Homo sapiens: one gene and its partners. The protein of the gene in region 1 interacts with the protein of each later gene in a pairwise test. Each region holds a gene or a part of one and is shown in the gene's direction. Other genes may lie near its edges.

Region 1 (3,657 bases):
GCTTAGATGATCCTCCTACCTCAGCCTTCCAAGTAGCAGGGACTAAAGGCGTCTGCCACCATGCCCAGCTAATTTATGTAATTTTTTGTAGAGACGGGGTTTCACCATGTTGCCCAGGCTGGTCTCGAACTCCTGGACTGAAGTGATCCTCCGGCCTTGGCCACCTGAAGTGCTGGGATTACAGACGTGAGCCACCATGCTTGGCCTGTCACCCCTTCTTAAAGACTATACACCTTTTTTTTTTTTTTTTTTTTTAGACGGAGTCTCCCTCTGTCGCCCAGGCTGGAGTGCAATGCGCCATCTCGGCTCACCGCAACCTCCGCCTCCCGGGTTCAAGCAATTCTCCTGTCTCAGCCTCCTGAGTAGCTGGGATTACAGGCATGTGCCAGCATGCATGGCTAATGTTTTTTTTTGTTTTTTTTTGTTTTTGTTTTTGTATTTTTAGTAGAGACGGGTTTTTACCGTATTGGCCAGGCTGGTCTCGAGCTCCTGACCTTGTGATCTGCCGCCTCGGCCTCCCAAAGTGCTGGGATTGCAGGCATGAGCCACTGCACCTGGGTTTTTTTTTTTTTTTTTTTGGGAGACAGAGTCTTGCTCTGTTGTCCAGGCTGGAGTATGGTGGCACGATCTCAACTCACCACAGCCTCTGCCTCCCGGGTTCAAGCGACTCTCGTGCCTCAGCCTCCTGAGTAGCTGGTATTACAGGCGCACCCCACCACGCCCAGCTAATATTTTGTATTGTTAGTAGAGACAGGGTTTTACCATGTTGGCCAGGCTGGTCTCGAACCCCTGACCTCAAGTGATCCAACTGCCTTGGCCTCCCAAAGTGCTGGGATTACAGGCGTGAGCCACCGTGCCCAGCCAAGACTATATACTCTTATTTCCCGTGAATACATTATTGACAGTTATTGAAAATATTGACTATAGCCCCAAAAGGCTTAACTGGTTAGAGATACAGGGCAGACAAAGGATAGATAAAAATGGTGGGGGCAAAGAGTAAATGCTATGGGATTCTAAAGGGTATCTGCATGAGAGAGATTCCTTTTTGTTGTTGTTTTGTTTTGTTTTTGTGACAGAGTCTCGGCTCTATCACCCAGCCTGGAGTGCAGTGGCTCCATCTCAGCTCACTGCAACCTCCGCCTCCCAGGTTCAACCAATACCTCAGCCTCTGGAATGGCTGGGATCCCGGGATTACAGGCATGCGCCACCACGCCCAGCTAATTTTTTTTTTTGAGACGGAGTCTCGCTTTGTCACCCAGGCTGGAGTGCAGTGGCGCGATCTCAGCTCACTGCAACCTCCGCCTCCCAGGTTCAACCAATACCTCAGCCTCTGGAATGGCTGGGATCCCGGGATTACAGGCATGCGCCACCATGCCCAGCTAATTTTCTTTTTTGAGACGGAGTCTCGCTCTGTCACCTAGGCTGGAGTGCAGTGGCGCTATCTCAGCTCACTGCAAGCTCCGCCTCTCAGGTTCATGCCATTCTCCTGCCTCAGCCTCCTGAGTAGCTGGGACTACAGGCGTCCACGACCACTCCCAGCTAATTTTTTGTATTTTTTTTTTAGTAGAGACGGGGTTTCACCGTGTTAGTCAGGATGGTCTCGATCTCCTGACCTCGTGATCTGCCTGCCTTGGCCTCCCAAAGTGCTGGGATTACAGGTGTGAACCACCCTGTCCGGCCACAATACCCAGCTAATTTTTGTAGTTTTAGTAGAGACAGGGTTTCATTGTATTGGCCAGGCTGGTCTTAAACTCGCGGCCTCAGATGATCTGCCTGCCTGGGCCTCCCAAAGTGCTTGGCTTAAATGGTGAGCCACCATGCCTGGCATGCCTGGACTTTTTTTTTTTTTTTTTCCCAGATGGAATCTCACTGTGTCACCCTGGCTGGAGTCCAGTAGCATGATCCAAGCTCACTGCAGCCACCACCTCCCAGGTCAAGCGGTTCTCCTGCCTCAGCCTACCAAGTAGCTGGGATTACAGGCGCGCCCCACCGCCCAGCCAATTTTTTATATTGTTAGTAGAGACAGGGTTTTATGATGTTGGCCAGGCTGGTCTCCCAAAGTGATAAGATTACAAGTGTGAGCCACAATGCCCAGCCAAGACTATATACTCTTATTTCCCAGTGAATACATTATTAACAGTTACCGAACATGTTGACCACAGCCCCAAAAGGCTTAATTGGTTGGAGATACAGGACAAAGGATAGATAAAAATGGGAGGGGCAAAGTGTAAATGCTATGGGATTCTGAGGGTATTTGAATGAGGGAGGTTCTTTTTTGTTTTTGTTTTGTTTTGAGTCAGAGTCTCTGTCACCCAGCCTGGAGTGCAGTGGCTTTATCTCGGCTCACTGCAGCCTCCGCCTCCTGGCTTCAAGTGATTCTCAGGCCTCAGCCTCCAGAATGGCTGGAATTACAGGCATGCGCCACCACACCCGGCTAATTTTTTTTGTATTTTTAGTAGAGACTGGATTTCACCATGTTGACCAGGCTGGTCTCACACTCCTGACCTCAGGTGATCTGGCTGTCTTGGCCTCCCAAAGTGCTGGGCTTACATGTGTGAGCCACCCCACCTGGAGTTTTTTTGTTTTGTTTTGTTTGAGATGGAATCTCACTCTCTCACCCAGGCTGGAGTGCGGTGACATGATCTTGGCTCACTGCAGCTTCTGCTTCCCAGGTCAGGCAGTTCTCCTGCTTGACCCAGTAGCTGGGATTACAGGCGCATGCCACCATACCCAGCTAATTTTCCTATTTTTAGTAGAGATGGGGTTTCTAGCCAGGCTGGTCTCGAACTTCAGACCTCAGGTGATCCGCCTGCCTTGGCTTCTCAAAGTGCTGGGATTACAGGCATGAGCCGTCGTGCCTGGCCTGTATGACTGTATGAGGGAGGTTCTTGAGCTAGGTGCCTTTTTTTTTTTTTTGAGATGGGGTCTCACTCTGTCGCCCAGGGGCACAATCATAGCTCATTGCAGCCTTGACCTCCTGGGTTCTAGCAGGCCTTCCACCTCAGCCTCCCGAGTAGCTGGGACTACAGGTGTGTGCCACCACACCTGGCTAATTTTTATTTTTTGTAGAGATGGGGTCTCATTGTGTTGCCCAGGTTGGTCTTGAACTCCTGGCTTCAAGCAGTCCTCCTGCCTCAGCCTCCCAAAGTGCTGGGATTATAGGCATGAGCCACCTCACCCAGCCTTCTTGAGCTGAGTTCTAGAGGAAAGTTAAGACTGACCTCAAATTTCAGGAGACAGTCCCAAAGGAATTCTGGTAATATTGCAATTTTTTTTTTCTGAGACAGTTTTGCTCTTGTTGCCCAGGCTGGAGTGCAGTGGCACAATCTCAGCTCATTGCAACCTCTGCCTCCCGGGTTCAAGCGATTCTCCTGCCTCAGTCTCCCGAGAAGCTGGGATTACAGGCATGCACCACCACGCTCAGCTAATTTTGTATTTTTAGTAGAGACCGGGTTTCTCCATGGTGGTCAGTCAGGCTGGTCTCGAACTCCGGGACTCAGGTGATCTGCCAGCCTTGGCCTCCCGAAGTGCTGGGATTGCAGGCGTGAGCCACCGCGCCTGGCCGAGATTCTTAAGTAAATGAACTTTTCTTTAGGCACATGAATTGGAACTATGGAACAAAGAGATTATTGATACAATTATTCAAGAAGCACATTT
Region 2 (3,657 bases), on another chromosome or scaffold:
CTAAAAATACAAAAAAAAAAAAAATTAGCCGGGCATGGTGGCGGGTGCCTGTAGTCCCAGCTACTCGGGAGGCTGAGGTAGGAGAATGATGTGAACCCGGGAGGTGGAGCTTGCGGAGAGCCGAGATCGCGCCACCGCACTCCAGCCTGGGCAACAGAGCGAGACTCCGTCTCAAAAAAAAAAAAAAAAAAAAAGAGAAGTATTAGACCACAGATGGGGATATCCTTAATAAGGCATTGTCTGTATTACATAGGAGACTTACTGTATGGGTGGACATTATAGAGAAGGAAGAAGTTCAAGAAGAGCTTAGAGAGTAAGTGATTAATCCCTAGGGAAATTGTGCTTTCCCTCTGAGGGCACAAAGGATACCACTGTGTTCTCTTATCTGAAGCTCCATGATACTAGAGTCTGACATGGAAGATTGTCTTCTGTATCATTGATCTGACTAGGATGGCATTTTAAAATGTTCTCTTTCTAAATGGAGAGAAGCAAAATTGTGTCAGTGATCTTAACCAGTAGAAAAAAAATGCAAAGAAAGTATAACCTGTTTCTGGAGAGGTAACTTTTGACTGATCAAGCAAAAATTTTCCTCTTTGGTAAAGACTGATCTTCATGATAAGTGGTAAGTAAATTAAGCACCTTTTAGAGGAGAGGTAACTCTAATAGTTTCATTCAACAAAAGTTGACTGAGTGCCCACAATGTTCCAGGCACTGTGCTAAAGTCTGAGAGAGATTGACACAGTTTCTGCCCCTGAGAAATTTATAATTAGGTTGGAGAGACAGACCCATAAGCAGATACTGCAACATAGTGTGGTAAGCTCTGCATTAGACACACACATAAGGATTTATAGGGAACCAAAAGGGCATTCTCTAAGCAGCGTCTCAAAAGATACCATTGAACATAGCTAAGAATATCCACCACAGGGGCCCTGGTCTCACTTTGTTGATGAGTGTTATAGAGCAAAATGATTAAATTGAAACTTTGACAGTTTAATACTCTATGGGTATATTAATGGCATGCTTGTTGCTACATTCATTTCAAAATGAAAGTTGAAAAGCTTTATTAAATGAAGTGAGAAGATTCTGTGCATTTGACCTAGTGCTACTAGGTGGTTCAGAGGGTGACAATGGGGTGCCCCATATGATAAATGAAACGTCTATGAGGATAAACTAAGAGATTGTAAATGTAGAACTGAGTGTGAGGGAGATCACTTAAAACTCTAGTCAAGGTGACCTGGGTATAATCTCAAAGAGAGGATTGGAGTGTGGCTGAAAAAATGATACTTGTTATTACATGTACCAGACATTATTCTTAGGACTACTTTCAGAAGTAGGTATTTTTATTGTTCCCTTTTTGTAGATGAAAAAATAGGCTTAAAGAGGTTAAGTGTAACTTGCTTAAGATCACACACACAGAGTAAGTGGCAGTACTATCTGGTTGCAGAGCTCATGCTCTTTCCCATTCAAGCTTATACAGTCTTAGAGAGGTTTGAGTAAGTAGGAACTTAACTAATTGTGATGTACTTTGTCTGGAAAAAGAATTTGAATAGATATTCTCAGTCCAGCGCATAGGAGAGGAAAGCCCAAAGAGCTGTTCTCAGTACCTACCGCACTACCTGCTGCACATCACAGAAAGGGCTAAATCTGGCAAACACAGATGTAGACCCCAGGGAAATGTTCTTGGATGTGGGTTAGGGATGGTTCTGTAGGCTTCACTGTGGCCTAGATAAATCTTCCTCCCTTTGTTCTTGCTCCATACTTGTTAGTTTTTCATTGTTCATTTGGTTTTACAGGTACCTAGCCACTCAGAAAGAGGGAGCCTTGGATAGTAGTCACTGAAAAGGACTACTATTTCAAACCCTCACTTCAACCGTATTCCTCGTTGTCAAACAGCTTTCTGCATTAGTCTCATGTGAGCTGGGGTAGCTGAGTGTGGGTCTGTTCTGTTCTGGGGCAGTGACAAGATCCAGATTCCTCAACCTATTAATACAAAGGTGAGGCCACAATTTCATGGTGTCAGTGACAGCAAGAGGGAGTTCCTGGAGTAGCAGTGCCGTGGGGCCAATGCCATTCATGATGGCATGGAGGCTGCAGTATCATGCTCCTTGGAGGAGGCAGCAGTGGTATCTTGCTTGGTCCTGGAGTTTCATGTGATTTAGAATGCAGATGTATTATCTTTGGCTGTGTATTCTCAGAATCTGGGTCTTTAGACCTCTTGATGAAACTGAGCTACCCATTCCACTTACATTATAATAAGTTCATTTTTGTCTTTAGTGGAAAAAGAAAAAAGAAGAGGCCTACAACTTGGATTGCTATGAATTCACCAAGGTAGTGCCATACTGTTAGGCACTGTATGTATGAACAGCCAGCCCCTCTTGCTTTGCCAGGACACTGCACTCACATGCTTGTGTGTGTGTAGTCAAAGCAGATTAAGATTAGGATACCAACTGTAAGGACTAATTACGGCAGTTTGTCACAGCTTCGCCAACCTAGCCTTTTTTTCTTCTAGATTTTTTAGGATTGAAGGCAGAAAGGAAAAACATCCTTCAGGAAATCCTTCAGGAACTTTTGGATTATTGAGATTTGCACTAAATTGGATACAGTTTTACTCATATTTATCACCTACTTTCTTTGCCCTAAGTACTTCTCGAGAAAATTTAACCCTGCCAGAATTTATTGAAAAATGTAACTTATTCCTAAATAACTTGAATAAAAACCTTAAGCCATGACTTCAAATAGCACATCAGTAATACCTAATCATTTTAGCTGTTTATTTCTGTATGTGCATTTCCTAGCAGTCTACACATACAGATGGTTCCAGCTGGTTTTAGTTTTGCACCATTTCTCTATTTTATCAATCTGCTATTATAAATACTAGGAAATAAATGTTTAAAAGGGGGAAAAGAAGCAAAGGGTGTAGCTGATGTGCAGATTGGGATTGAATGTGGGAATGAGGGGTGATGGGAGTGATTGGAAATATTGCAGCCCTGCATAGTCTCCATCAGGGATGTGACAAAGTGGATAATCTCTACCACGTGAGAAACTTCCAACATTACTTGCAAATCAGATTTAATGAATAAAATAAAGCTGTAGCACTTGGCACATTCATTGGGACCCTTACCCAAACATTATCAATATTGTGTACGTTATCTTTATTATCAGGTCACAAAAGATGTCATAAAAGAATTTGCAGATGACGGCGTCAAGTACCTGGAACTAAGGAGCACACCCAGAAGAGAAAATGCTACTGGTAGAATTTATACTTCTCAGCAAATGTACTGTCCTTTTCCTATGTGCTTTGATCACTCACATGTTTGTGAGTGGGAATATGAAGCACTAACTTTTATACTATTGTGTTGTTCTGTATTTCATTGAACCTTTAGTCAACAGTCCAAGTCCTCTCTCTGATGTACATTAATGATGTTCATTTTGTTTGTTTTAGAGACAGGGTCTTGCTGTCTTGCCCAGGCTGGAGTGCAGTGGTGCAAACATAGCTCACTGTAACCACAAACTCCTGGGCCCAACAATCACCTCAGCCTCTAAAAGTGCTGGGATTACAGGTGTGAGCCACCGTGCCCATCCTGATGTACATTATTAATGAGTGAGTTATTCTTAAGTAAAAAGTAGTAAAATTCCAGTCAGGCATTATCTGTTTAA
Region 3 (2,796 bases), on another chromosome or scaffold:
ATGAAAAATTTTGTTTTTTTCTCCTCTCACTAATGTATTTATATATTATCCCTTGCCTGTGTATACCACTCAGATTGTGGAATCTTTGGCATTTGACTTTCTGTTGTTCAACCTTGTAATTCTTTTGCAGGAGAAACTCTTAAAGCAAATGAGGATTTTATGGAAAAAGATTCAAGAAAATCAGAGAAATCTATATGAGGAGGGAAGAACAGCCTTCCTCTGGAGGGTAAGTATGAGACCGTGAGTCCTCCTGACCAGCTTGAGACAGGCATGCTGACAACATTTATATTAGCAACTTGAGTTGAAATTCTTATGCCAGATTTTGTCATGTGTTTATTCATAGGCTGGAAAACAACCAGACTGTTCAACATAACGATTGTTCAGGTTTTCTGTAAATGCTTTTCAGATAAGTAAAAAATAAATATAAATTCTGAAGGGCAAGTATGTGCTTAAAATTAATAAGTATTTCAGACAGAGTTTTCTGTATAAAATTAATTATGAAATGTTGATTAAATAGTATATAATTGAGAAATAAAGGCATTTATTGGTGAATATGATATTGTCCAGGGGGAAGAAATCGGGTGGGAACAGTAATTTAAGAAATGTGCCTGTGCTGGTGAAATCTGATAGCAAAGGACCCACATGATGCCAGTCCGAGTAGGAGAAAATGCAACATGAGGAAAAGCTGAGGAGAAGGGATAAAAAATGACTGGGGCAGTGAGAGGATAAATATGTCATTATTGAGAGGAGAAACACAATGGAATGGGGATTAATGTTCTTAGAATGGCAGTGCAATACAGAGTCTATGGATTTGACAGAAGAAAGATAGGAGACAGAAAAGAGGTAGTCAGTTTGAGAGATGGGGGTTAAATTTTTTACTAAGATCCTTTTTGTGTGATGGCTTCTGATCCTGATTATAATATACTAAAAACATTTCTACTAAGAGTGATTGTTCAGGCTGTGAAGTACAGAGATTTGAAACAACAACCTAAGTGAATAACAAAGATTATGTGTATTATCCATGACAATGTAACAATCATAAATTTTAGTTGTTTTCTAATTGTATTTCCGATTTGATTTAAACATTTAAACCTAAAGGGCTTTTTTGCAGGTGTTTGGGAATTGATGAATTACATAAATTTTGAAGGAAGGTCTTGCTTAACTCATCATCCTGTTTGTAAAGGATGGAAAATAAAAGAAGGAATGAGGAGGATGAAGTTGTAGGCTCTGTGAGGTGGAAGTAGGCCTGGGTATATAACCTACAAAATTCATATCCCTACAGGGCAATGTGGTTTTACGGGCACAGATGATCAGGAATGAGTATAGGAAGCTGCATCCGGTTCTCCATAAGGAAGAAAAACAACATTTAGAGAGACTGAACAAGGAATACCAAGAGATTTTTCAGCAACTCCAGAGAAGTTGGGTCAAAATGGATCAAAAGAGTAAACACTTGAAAGAAATGTATCAGGAACTAATGGAAATGTGTCATAAACCAGATGTGGAGCTGCTCCAGGTAAGAATGGAGGATGCCCCTTGAGACACTTTGTGTTAGCTGACCTTTACATCTTTGCCTTCCATTGGGTACCAAAGACATTATTTCCTCATCTCCTGTACTGACGGTGAGAGTCATTCCCACCGGTTATAGAGATAAACTATAACTCCTACGCTAATCATGGAAATAAAGCTTTATGGAATTGTGCAACTAGATTTCCATACAACATTTTCTACCACAAGCTTCCTCCTCCAGCACATTTCATTAAAACTCTGGAAGAAAAAATTTCATGCTTGATTTGAGCCACATTACACTTTGGGGACTAGCCCTGAAAAAGACCACATTGTAGACAGCTGCAGCAATGCGCAGTCACTACTCACACCTTTCTCTCTCACTCAAATTTAGGGTCCTTAATTTATCAGAAATCCATATTGTCAATAGGTCTTACTGGTATAATTGTTAGAGATGAGAATACATTTTAAAAGAGTGGCAGTAATAGTATACGGTAATTCTAAAGTTTTGAAAACCTAAAGACCAGATAGGCAGAATAGCAACTTTTTTGTGTGTTTATTTTGAGACAGAGTCTTCTTCTGTCACCCAGACTGAAGTCCAATGGCCCAATCTCAGCTCACTGCAACTTCTGCCTCCTTGGTTCAAGCAATTCTCCTGCCTCAGCCTCCCTAGTAGCTGGGACTAAAGGCATGAACCACCACACCCCACTATTTGTGTGTGTGTGTGTATTTTTAGTAGAGACGGGGATTTGCCATGTTGTCCAGGCTAGTCTGGAACTCCTGACCTCAGGTGTTCCACCCACCTTGGCCTCCCAAAGTGCTGGGATTACAGGTGTGAACCACCTCACCCAACAAGAATAACAACTTTCTAAAGAAGTCATTTTTTTTTTCTCTCTCTCTCTACAGGATTTGGGAGACATCGTGGCAAGGTATGTTTTTGGCCGTCAGTGCAAACTGGAGCACAAGGCATGCTATGAAAAACATCAAGCTGTTTCCAACAAAGTGAAAACATAATTTACTAACACCATAATGTGTCAGTGTGATTGTGTGTGTATGTGTGTGTAGTCATGTGTTTATGTGGTATGATGAATGTCATCTATGCCTTTTATCAGACATTAATCTTTTCTTACTTTCCCAAGTGACTCAGGGGTTTATGTTTTGAAGAGTGCAATGCAGAGGTTGCTAGAATACAGTTGCCTCTTTTTGCGATTCAGAATCATAATTAGAGATAAACTATTTGGTGGCAGATAGGGAGAGAGGCATTTATCTTTCAGGGGCAGTAGGTTAGAAATG

Evidence for each region.
Region 2: the proteins of UBE2K (region 1) and MAPDA interact in binary tests that used the Homo sapiens proteins (3 or more experiments, as listed by UniProt).
Region 3: the proteins of UBE2K (region 1) and TRIM43 interact in binary tests that used the Homo sapiens proteins (3 or more experiments, as listed by UniProt).

The regions. Positions count from the first base shown.
Region 1 is NC_000004.12:39,704,636-39,708,292, forward strand, and holds part of UBE2K (ubiquitin-conjugating enzyme E2 K), read left to right. Parts: intron 1-3,657. UniProt on the Homo sapiens protein: Accepts ubiquitin from the E1 complex and catalyzes its covalent attachment to other proteins. In vitro, in the presence or in the absence of BRCA1-BARD1 E3 ubiquitin-protein ligase complex, catalyzes the synthesis of 'Lys-48'-linked polyubiquitin chains.
Region 2 is NC_000015.10:43,337,103-43,340,759, forward strand, and holds part of MAPDA (N6-Methyl-AMP deaminase), read left to right. Parts: intron 1-3,162; coding exon 3,163-3,250; intron 3,251-3,657. UniProt on the Homo sapiens protein: Catalyzes the hydrolysis of the free cytosolic methylated adenosine nucleotide N(6)-methyl-AMP (N6-mAMP) to produce inositol monophosphate (IMP) and methylamine.
Region 3 is NC_000002.12:95,594,920-95,597,715, forward strand, and holds part of TRIM43 (tripartite motif-containing protein 43), read left to right. Parts: intron 1-130; coding exon 131-226; intron 227-1,282; coding exon 1,283-1,513; intron 1,514-2,409; coding exon 2,410-2,432; intron 2,433-2,796.